Linked DNA regions of Homo sapiens. Changing the gene in region 1 together with any one later gene gives a genetic interaction. Each region holds a gene or a part of one and is shown on either strand. Other genes may lie near its edges. The genes, in order: PAX3 and SOX10.

The links.
Region 2: of PAX3 (region 1) and SOX10, changing one enhances a phenotype caused by changing the other (phenotypic enhancement), as found in Homo sapiens cells (one study listed by BioGRID).

What each region holds. Positions count from the first base shown.
Region 1 is NC_000002.12:222,225,758-222,233,063, forward strand, and holds part of PAX3 (paired box protein Pax-3), read right to left. Parts: intron 6,527-7,306; coding exon 6,321-6,526; intron 1-6,320. UniProt on the Homo sapiens protein: Transcription factor that may regulate cell proliferation, migration and apoptosis. Involved in neural development and myogenesis. Transcriptional activator of MITF, acting synergistically with SOX10.
Region 2 is NC_000022.11:37,971,720-37,974,769, reverse strand, and holds the end of SOX10 (transcription factor SOX-10), read left to right. Parts: intron 1-571; coding exon 572-1,275; 3' UTR 1,276-2,458; downstream 2,459-3,050. UniProt on the Homo sapiens protein: Transcription factor that plays a central role in developing and mature glia.

The DNA.
Region 1 (7,306 bases):
AAGGAGATATTAAATGTTCAGTAAATGCTAGCTATTAAATAGAAAGTCTCACACTGACACTTCTATCTGAGAAAACCAAGAATTGAAGCTCTGTTTTGCTTCCTTCACTCTGTGGTGTCCAGCCAAAGCCTTTTGTGTCTGTGAGTAAACAGGAAAGTGCCCAGAAAACACCTCAAATAATTGAAAGCCGGTTTGACTTGAATGGAGGCTTAGGTCAAATTTGCTTCCAAGTTTCATGGATTAGTGCTAATTGTCCCTTGGTGTCAGCCTAATTTTGCCCATCAATAAATTACTGGTTCACATTTTTGGTGGTGTTCTCAAAGGCAATTCAGCCTACATTATTCAAGACGGATTACTTCAAATGCAATTTGAAAAATGGGGAGAGAACATAATAGTTAATCCTTAGAAAGAGAATTCGCAACAAGATTGTAAAACGTTTGGTTAAATACTAGACTCAGGATGTCGAATGCTGACATGCCAAGTACAGTACTTTCCAAGTAGGGAAATTCAGGGCAAGCTGCTCATTTCCCTGGACCTTCTCCTTCACTCTCACCTCCTTTCTCTTTCTATGAAAGGTTCTCCCAGCCTTCCAATCACTGCTGCTATCCAACTTTGGCCACCATTTGGAGAGCAGGTTGGAAACAGGATGGGCAAGATTGAACAGGAGGAAGGCCATGCTCCCATGCATGTGAAAAGACCATGGACACACACAAAAGCACACTCAACTGCATCTTGATACCTCCCAAAAGCAAACTCCTGCAGAGAACTTCAGGATGAACATATGTTTGCTTCATTACGGAGCTTAGGATATTCTATACCTATCTGAACTTCTGAACTATACAGATCAGTTAGACGGCTTCAAATCATCATGGTGCTTTTTTAGGAATTCCAAATTACTGATGCTATAAGGATTCTGCCATATTCTCATTCCCTTTCTCATTCCCAAGGGTCCTGAGAAATTATGCATTTGGGTCATTCCCAAAATGCATGATTTCTCAGGACCCTTGGGAATCACCATTGTTATTTTTTGGGAATCCTAAATTACTGATGCTATAAGGGTCCTGAGAAATCATGCGTTCTACTAGTTTTTAATTTGGGCATGGGAGAAAGGTATTTGAGCACATAATGAAAGCCAGAGGCCCTTTCTCTAGTTAACAGTTGTATATACACATACACAAGCAAAGGAGCAAAATTTTGTGTACAAATCTCAAATCTCCCAGATCTCCTGAAGTCCACCCATGATTATCCTGGTGGGGCATGAACCCCAGCTGAGATCATGTGATCTAACCAACCCCATATTTTTTTAAATTAAAAAAATTAAAAACCTGAAGTCCAAAAGGATTCCAGCAAGATTAAGTAACTTGCTCAACAAAACACATTTGTCAACTGGGAACGAAACCCATATCATCTGACTCCTAGTTAAATTCTATTTCCCCTAGTAACTTGTTTTTCTGTCTTCCATTGTCTTCGTGGTAAAACAGGATGTTACTTGCCTACTTCATGGGATTCTTAGATGGAATATTTACTAAAACTTTTGCACATCATAAATATTTGGGCCAGACATAGTGGCTTACACCTGTAATCTCAGCACTTTGGGAGGCCAAAAAATAGGAGGATTACTTGATTCCAGGAGTTTGAGACCAGCCTTGGCAACATGGTGAAACCGCATCTCTACAATACAAAAATTAGCTGGGTGTGGTGGCACAAGCCTGTAGTCTCGGCTACCCAGGAGACTGAGGCGGGAGGATCATCTGAGCCCAGGAGGCAGAGGTTGCAGTGAGCAGAGATCGCACCACTGTACTCCAGTGCACTCCAGCTCAGGCAACAGAGTGAGACCCTGTCTCAAAAAATAATTAATTAATTAATATTTGCAAGTAATTCCTCCCCACAAAACTTGAATGTTTGTCATTATTTGCATGATATTAATAACAGCTACCCTCATTACAGATGAATTAGGCAAATCATCTTTTTTAAAAAAAAAAAAAACCTTGTAGTGTTATTATTACTAGGCAAATAGTCGTTAGTATACAACAGTTCTTACATTGTGTACTCAGATTTGGTTATGATAAACTCAACACAGCTACAGCCTAAATGAATTTATATAAAACACTGACAGAGGCTAAAGTTATTATAGCTTTAGTCCCATTTCTATTTAGAAGAGTGTAGAAATATTTTTCCTCAGGAGAAAAAAAATGAAATGTAGACATGATTTGGGGTTTGGGGGGTGTTTCGTGTTTGGTTTTCCCAGGTGCCCCAAATTAAACTAACTCACACTTTCTGGCTATCACTCAAACTGAGTTGACTTGGCTACTGCTTTCCCAGATCCTCTAAAAACTAAAGGATTTTCTTCTGGCATTTTAATCAGTGATTAACTACTCCCTTCTTTTTCCTGCTGGGTTAAGTAAAAGATCCATATGCTGGGTGTTCTAGGGAATTTGTTAGGCTATAGATCACAGCCGTGGTGCCAGCCATGATGTGTCTCAAGGGAACTAAAGAAGCCATAAGGAATGTCAAGAGTCACCGGGTTAAAGCCACATTAAGACAGCTGTTACGTTAATGAAGGCCCTGCTTCGAAGAGGAGGTCACTATATGGAAAAGTATGAACTACTGTTTATTGGTTTGATCCCATGTCCTCTGAAAGTTAATGGGCCATTATTATTATCCTTTGACATTCATTGAGCCAGATGAGAATGCTGGGTGCTGTACAAGCTACATGGGTTTGAAATATATTCTGTCTCCATCCTTAGTTTTGACAAAGGCAGGAATGAAAGAGAACAACACCGAACACTCCTCAGTTTTCCATCACACTCCTTGTCTGATCTATTTACAATAAATGTTTATTTTTCCTTACTCACATTGAGTTCAGAGCTGATACTCGGCCTATTTTAAAAATAGATCTAGTGCCAGTGGCTCACACCTGTAATCTCAACACTTTGAGACGCTGAGGAGGGAGGATCACTTGAGTCCAGGAGCTCAAGACCAACCTGAGCAACATAGCAAGACCCCAGCTCTACAAAAAAATAGAAAAATAATTAGCCAGACATGGTGGCACACATCTGTAGACCCAGCTACTCTGGAAGCTGAGGTGGAAGAATCACTTGAGCTTGGAAGATCGAGGCTACACAGTGAGCCATGATTAAGCCACTGTACTACAGGCTGGGCAACAAAGTGAGACTCTGTCTCAAAAAACAAACAAACAAACAAACAAAAAAGCAGATCTAGTAGGTGGGCTTGGCCAGTTACAGAGGACAGGTACCAAATCCTGGAATATAGTGGCCACTCAAAAGAGGCATGATTGGACCTCACATAACATTTGCAGGTAATTGCAGAACTATAATAAAAGCAAAGTAGATTTGAAACATATTATTTATAACATTGTTATATATAATATACTATTATATGATTTAATTTGTCTGCCCTTTTGATTGTGATACAGATTTTTTCTCTGCACTGTTATATTAATATGCATGTTAATATCATAACATTGATATAGTAATATTAATGTTATGTTAATATAATATTTATATAGTATTATATAATATTACTATATCAATACTGTATTAAAATATTTTTCTATTGAAATATTATGACTTAGTTAATAAAGGTTATTTCTACACTGTGTGGTGGGGAGAAACACTCTGTTTCCCAATGATAATAGGTTTCCCAACTTTAAAACACCAGCTCTGTGAACCTTGGTCTATCTACAACTCTTCCTTTCACTCACCTTCCTCCCCACTTCTAGATTACACAATCGGTTGTCCATTCTACCTCTGAATACCTTCACCACCATCTCTTCCTTGCCATTCCCACTGCCACTACCTATCTCATGCCATAGCCCCCACTCCCTGTCACATCAAATGTGAGCTCACTGGCCTGAAACCCAAGACCTCCATAGGATATCCTCAGCCTACCTACCAAACCCTATTTCTTCCACCACCCTACCACTCCTTACATTCTAATCAAACTAACTATTCTCCCAATATGACTAGAGTGAAAAAGAAAGGTTATCTTACGTGTAGCCCACCACTTCTACCTCTCTGTGCCTCTGCTCATATAATTCCCTATTACTAATATACTCTCCTTATGCACCTGGTCCAGTGAATATCTATCTAGCCCGGAAAGTTCATCTTAAATCTGCCCTCTGGGCCCAGCACAATGGCTCATGCCTATAATCCCAGCACTTTGGGAAGCCAAGGCAAGTGGATCGCTTGCACCTGGGAGTTCAAGAAGAGCCTGGGCAACATGGCAAAATCCCATCTCTTCAAAAAATTATCCAGGCATAGTGGCATGCACCTGTAGCCCCAACTATCTGGGAGGCTGAGGTGGGAGGATCACCTGAGCTCAGGAGGTGTAGGCTTCAGTGAGCTGTGATTGTACCACTGTACTCCAACCTGGGCTACAGAATGAGACCCTGTCTCAAAAAAAAAAAAAATTAAATCTGCCTTCTTCATGTACCTCTCTTCATTCCTTCAAGATCTCATCCCTTGAGTTCATGTCCTTTGCAGGGACATGGATGAACCTGGAAACCATCATTCTCAGTAAACTAACACAGGAACAGAAAACCAAACACTGCATGTTCTCACTCATGAGTGAGAGTTGAACAATGAGAACACATGGACACAGGGAGGGGAAAATCACACACCAGGGCCTGTTGGGGGGTGGGGGGCTAGGGGAGGGATAGCATTAGGAGAAATACCTAATGTAGATGACGGGTTGATGGGTGCAGCAAACCACCATGGCACGTGTTATACCTATGTAACAAACCTGCCCCTTCTGCACATATATCCCAGAACTTAAAGTATAATTTTTTAAAAAAAGGTTGGGCATGGTGGCTCATACCTGTAATCCCAGCACTTTGGGAGGCCAAGGCGGCCAGATCACGAGGTCAGGAGTTCGAGACCAGCCTGACCAACATGGTGAAACCCCATCTCTACTAAAAATACAAAAATGAGCCGGGCCTGGTGGCAAGCACCTGTAATCCCAGCTACTTGGGAGACTGAGTCAGGAGAATCGCTTGAACCCAGGAGGCAGAGGTTGCAGTGAGCTGAGGTTGTACCACTGCACTCCAGCCTGGGTGACAGAGTGAGACTCCACCTCAAAAAAAAAAAAAAAAAAAAATCTCATCCTTTCCTCTTCTCAACTCCCATTGCACTTTTTCTCTTTCTGCACTTATCATGTCTGTGTTATTTTTAAATTATTTGTATGTTTATTTTTTTACCTTTCTTAGATTGCAACTCCTTCAGAGAACTGTCTTAATTGATCTTAGCATTCCTTGACTTTCCTAGCACTATGATGATCATATGGAAGTTTGAAGAAAACAATCTCTCTGACTGAGCTCTGCAGCCTGGAAGAGGCTATTTCTGTAAAATTCTGTAATAGGAGAGTTAATTAGCTGCATCTATGAACGTGTTGATCAATCTAGGGACCATGTCAACTGACTAGTCCACTGCTGAGTCCCCAGCCTGCAAATTAAGAATCTGGAAATAACACACAATATTTGCAGACAAGGTGACTTAACTTCTAGGGTGGTGAGGAGTTCGAGGATACCCTACGATATCTGCCATCTTTCAAACACTGTTTTACTAGCTCCAGGAAGTAGTTCTTCATTAATGATGAAAACATTATTCTATACTCTATAGAAACATATTACATCTAAGTAGCCTTTCCAGAAGGTTCAGAGCACCTCTAAGAGTTCAAAAGATAATTCAACATGTTCTTTAAGTAATATAATTTCTTGAAATGCTTCTTAATTATAAAATCGTTAAATGAAGGAATTTCATGTTATGCACCTTTGCACATTTTCATAATTGAAAGGTCACAGAGATGAAGCGTATGGGATCCAATTATCTCTAGACTCACTTTGCAGCTATGCCACCTTGGGTAGTTACTTATATAGTCCAAGTCTCAGTTTCCTTATTTGTAAATGGAGAGTAGCAATCATGGTACCCACCTAGGATTTTAATAATGATTCAATGGGTTAATTCATGTGAAGCACTTAAAATAGTGGCTGGGACAGAGTAACCACTCAAAATTTATTTGCTCTTACTTGTGTATCACCCCCAAAGTCCATATAGTGCTGGTGTACAATAAGGATTCCTGAAAAGTTGAGTTAGTCACATGAAGTGGTGGACTTCTGTGTGTCGTAAATGATATAGTTGTATTCTGTCAGTAAATAATCAAAGTCCTAACAATATGCATCCCTAGTAAAGGGCCATTCCTAATACATTTTTGGGGGGGATTGACATATGTTTTAGATGAGAAGATGCTTGTTTGTTTCCTGTCTGGACTGAAGTAGGACACGGAGGTTTGGGCAACAGTACCTGTACTCGGGCCTCGGTGAGCTTCGCCCTCTGGGCCAGTTCCTCCCTAGTATAAATGTCAGGGTAATGAGTTCTCTCAAAAGCACGCTCCAGTTCCTCCAGCTGTTCTGCTGTGAAGGTGGTTCGGCTTCTGCGCTGTTTCCTCTTTAGTGGTAAATCTGGTTCAGAGTCAATATCAGAGCCTTCATCTGATTGGGGTGCTGAGGCTAAAAGCACAGAAGAACAAAACATCATAAAATGTGAATCAAAAAAATAAAACTGAGATTGAATCCAAGTTCTCTCTCCGACTGCAAGACACCATTACAGTGATCCCTATACCTAAAGTAAAATAAATGTGGATCAAAAAACAAGTCTAACCAATCCGTAATAATTCAAATCCTGGTCTACAGTGCATTCCCAATGTCTTCCATGGACACCAAGCACCCCGCCCCCATGCAGTCCTGCATCATTAAATAATATTTAATCTCTTCTCCTACTCTATCTTTCTGCCCCCTAGGCAGAAATAATTGCTCATAGCATCTGTCATTCTAGGCCAATTATGAGCTCTTAGAAAACAGGGACAGGCCTTATTCCATTTGTATGGCCCTATGCTTACTACTTAATGGGTGCTTCCTTCGTGTCTAATGAATGGATCACATTGAGTTTTGTTTCTGATAAATTTTCACCAACATTTACATTATGAAATCTGTTAAATGTGATTTTTAAAAATATTCCAAACTTGACTTAGTACCTAAGAAGCGAGTAACAGTTAACTATTCCCAGATTCCTATATATTTATAGACTACTGCTCTTATAAAAAATTATATTTAAATCAGTATCTCATCACCAGATATGGGGAAATGCTTTAAAGAAAATGTATGTACTATTAAAATGTAAATCTCTAGAACTGACCTGAGAAGAAGCAGGCAGGCATTGTCTTGTGAACTGTCCCTAACTAGAGTCTGGGTCTCTGCTGAGTGGGCATCTGTCCAGGACAGCTGCTTTAT
Region 2 (3,050 bases), on another chromosome or scaffold:
TTCCACAGGAAAGGTTTTTTCAGAATGAGGCAGGCCTCCCCAGGACCCATCCCTAAGATTTGAGAATTTCATAAACAACTAGAGATCAATCTAAGACACCAGTATTTAAACAAATGCTGTGGGGCGCAGTGGCTCATGATGGTAATCCCAGCACTTTGGGAGGCCGAGGCAGGTGGATCACCTGAGGTCAGGAGTTCAAGACAACCCTGGCCAACATGGTGAAACCCCGTCTCTACTAAAAATACACAAATTAGCTGGGCATTGTGGTGGGCGCTTGTAATTCCAGCTACTCAGGAGGCTGAGGCAGGAGAATCATTTGAACCCAGGAGGCAGAGGTTGCAGTGAGCCGAGATGGCGCCACTGCACTCCAGTCTGGGCAACAAGAGCGAAACTCCATCTCAAAAAAAAAAAACAAAAAAAAACCCGACTCATGCTGCCAAAATGTGAAACTTACAAGGTTTTCCCAGAGGCACCCGCTGCCTGAAGGTGAACCATGGAAGTTCACGTGCGCCCACCTGCCTCTAACCTGCTTCCCCCTTGCGCTCTCTCTCTCTGTCTCCCTTCTACCCAGGCCAGAGCCATGGCCCACCCACCCCTCCAACCACCCCGAAGACAGAGCTGCAGTCGGGCAAGGCAGACCCGAAGCGGGACGGGCGCTCCATGGGGGAGGGCGGGAAGCCTCACATCGACTTCGGCAACGTGGACATTGGTGAGATCAGCCACGAGGTAATGTCCAACATGGAGACCTTTGATGTGGCTGAGTTGGACCAGTACCTGCCGCCCAATGGGCACCCAGGCCATGTGAGCAGCTACTCAGCAGCCGGCTATGGGCTGGGCAGTGCCCTGGCCGTGGCCAGTGGACACTCCGCCTGGATCTCCAAGCCACCAGGCGTGGCTCTGCCCACGGTCTCACCACCTGGTGTGGATGCCAAAGCCCAGGTGAAGACAGAGACCGCGGGGCCCCAGGGGCCCCCACACTACACCGACCAGCCATCCACCTCACAGATCGCCTACACCTCCCTCAGCCTGCCCCACTATGGCTCAGCCTTCCCCTCCATCTCCCGCCCCCAGTTTGACTACTCTGACCATCAGCCCTCAGGACCCTATTATGGCCACTCGGGCCAGGCCTCTGGCCTCTACTCGGCCTTCTCCTATATGGGGCCCTCGCAGCGGCCCCTCTACACGGCCATCTCTGACCCCAGCCCCTCAGGGCCCCAGTCCCACAGCCCCACACACTGGGAGCAGCCAGTATATACGACACTGTCCCGGCCCTAAAGGGGGCCCTGTCGCCACCACCCCCCGCCCAGCCCCTGCCCCCAGCCTGTGTGCCCTGTTCCTTGCCCACCTCAGGCCTGGTGGTGGCAGTGGAGGAGGCTGAGGAGGCTGAAGAGGCTGACAGGTCGGGGGGCTTTCTGTCTGGCTCACTGCCCTGATGACCCACCCGCCCCATCCAGGCTCCAGCAGCAAAGCCCCAGGAGAACAGGCTGGACAGAGGAGAAGGAGGTTGACTGTTGCACCCACACTGAAAGATGAGGGGCTGCACCTTCCCCCAGGAATGACCCTCTATCCCAGGACCTGAGAAGGGCCTGCTCACCCTCCTCGGGGAGGGGAAGCACCAGGGTTGGTGGCATCGGAGGCCTTACCACTCCTATGACTCCTGTTTTCTCTCTCACAGATAGTGAGGGTCTGACATGCCCATGCCACCTATGCCACAGTGCCTAAGGGCTAGGCCACCCAGAGACTGTGCCCGGAGCTGGCCGTGTCTCCCACTCAGGGGCTGAGAGTAGCTTTGAGGAGCCTCATTGGGGAGTGGGGGGTTCGAGGGACTTAGTGGAGTTCTCATCCCTTCAATGCCCCCTCCCTTTCTGAAGGCAGGAAGGAGTTGGCACAGAGGCCCCCTGATCCAATTCTGTGCCAATAACCTCATTCTTTGTCTGAGAAACAGCCCCCAGTCCTCCTCCACTACAACCTCCATGACCTTGAGACGCATCCCAGGAGGTGACGAGGCAGGGGCTCCAGGAAAGGAATCAGAGACAATTCACAGAGCCTCCCTCCCTGGGCTCCTTGCCAGCTCCCTCTTCCCTTACTAGGCTCTATGGCCCCTGCTCAGTCAGCCCCACTCCCTGGGCTTCCCAGAGAGTGACAGCTGCTCAGGCCCTAACCCTTGGCTCCAGGAGACACAGGGCCCAGCACCCAGGTTGCTGTCGGCAGGCTGAAGACACTAGAATCCTGACCTGTACATTCTGCCCTTGCCTCTTACCCCTTGCCTCCCAGTGGTATTTGAATAAAGTATGTAGCTATATCTGCCCCTATTTTCCTGTTCTGCAGCCCCCCAAATCCACATGTAACTCATTACTGTCTCCTGTTATTTATCTCAGTAGTCCCCTCTCCTAGCCACTCTAGCCCCTATTAACTCTGCATTAAGCATTCCACATAATAAAATTAAAGGTTCCGGTTACCTGCTTGGTGAGCCTGACCTGGCCTGTCTCTTCATCTCTTATCCCTGTACTGGTGCTTCCTCAAATGCTTTCTGGAAGTAGCTAGGAGTAGAATGCAAAGGATAGATCATCAAAGGTCTCTCTCTCCCACCTCCCTCCCTCTTTCCCCACCCCCTTCCCCTCCCCCCTCCTCTCTCTCTCCCCCCTCCCTTCTCTCCTCTCTTTCTCTCTCTCTCTCCCCCCTCCCCCTCTCCTTTCTCTCTCTCTCCCCCCTCCCACTCTCCTCTCTCTCTTTCTGTCTCTCTCCCTGCTAAGAAAGTGGGAACAATGGAGAGTGTTAGGACAGCTGGCATCCCAGTGGGGTCCATCTGAGCTCAGGGACTGAAGCCTCAGATGGGAACTTCTCCCCAGCCCGGCGGCTATGCCCCACACTGCAGGGGGGCCACTCACTCTTAACTGGCTCAGCTAGAACTCACTGCCTTGCAAGCAGCCCCTCTGCTCACCCAGCACTCAGCAGACGGGAGTTTGCAAAGAATTCAAGAGACAGGTATCTGAAGAGGAGGAGGTGGGCTGAGGGTGACACCGTGCTGCCTGCAGTCAGAGGCCTGTCCT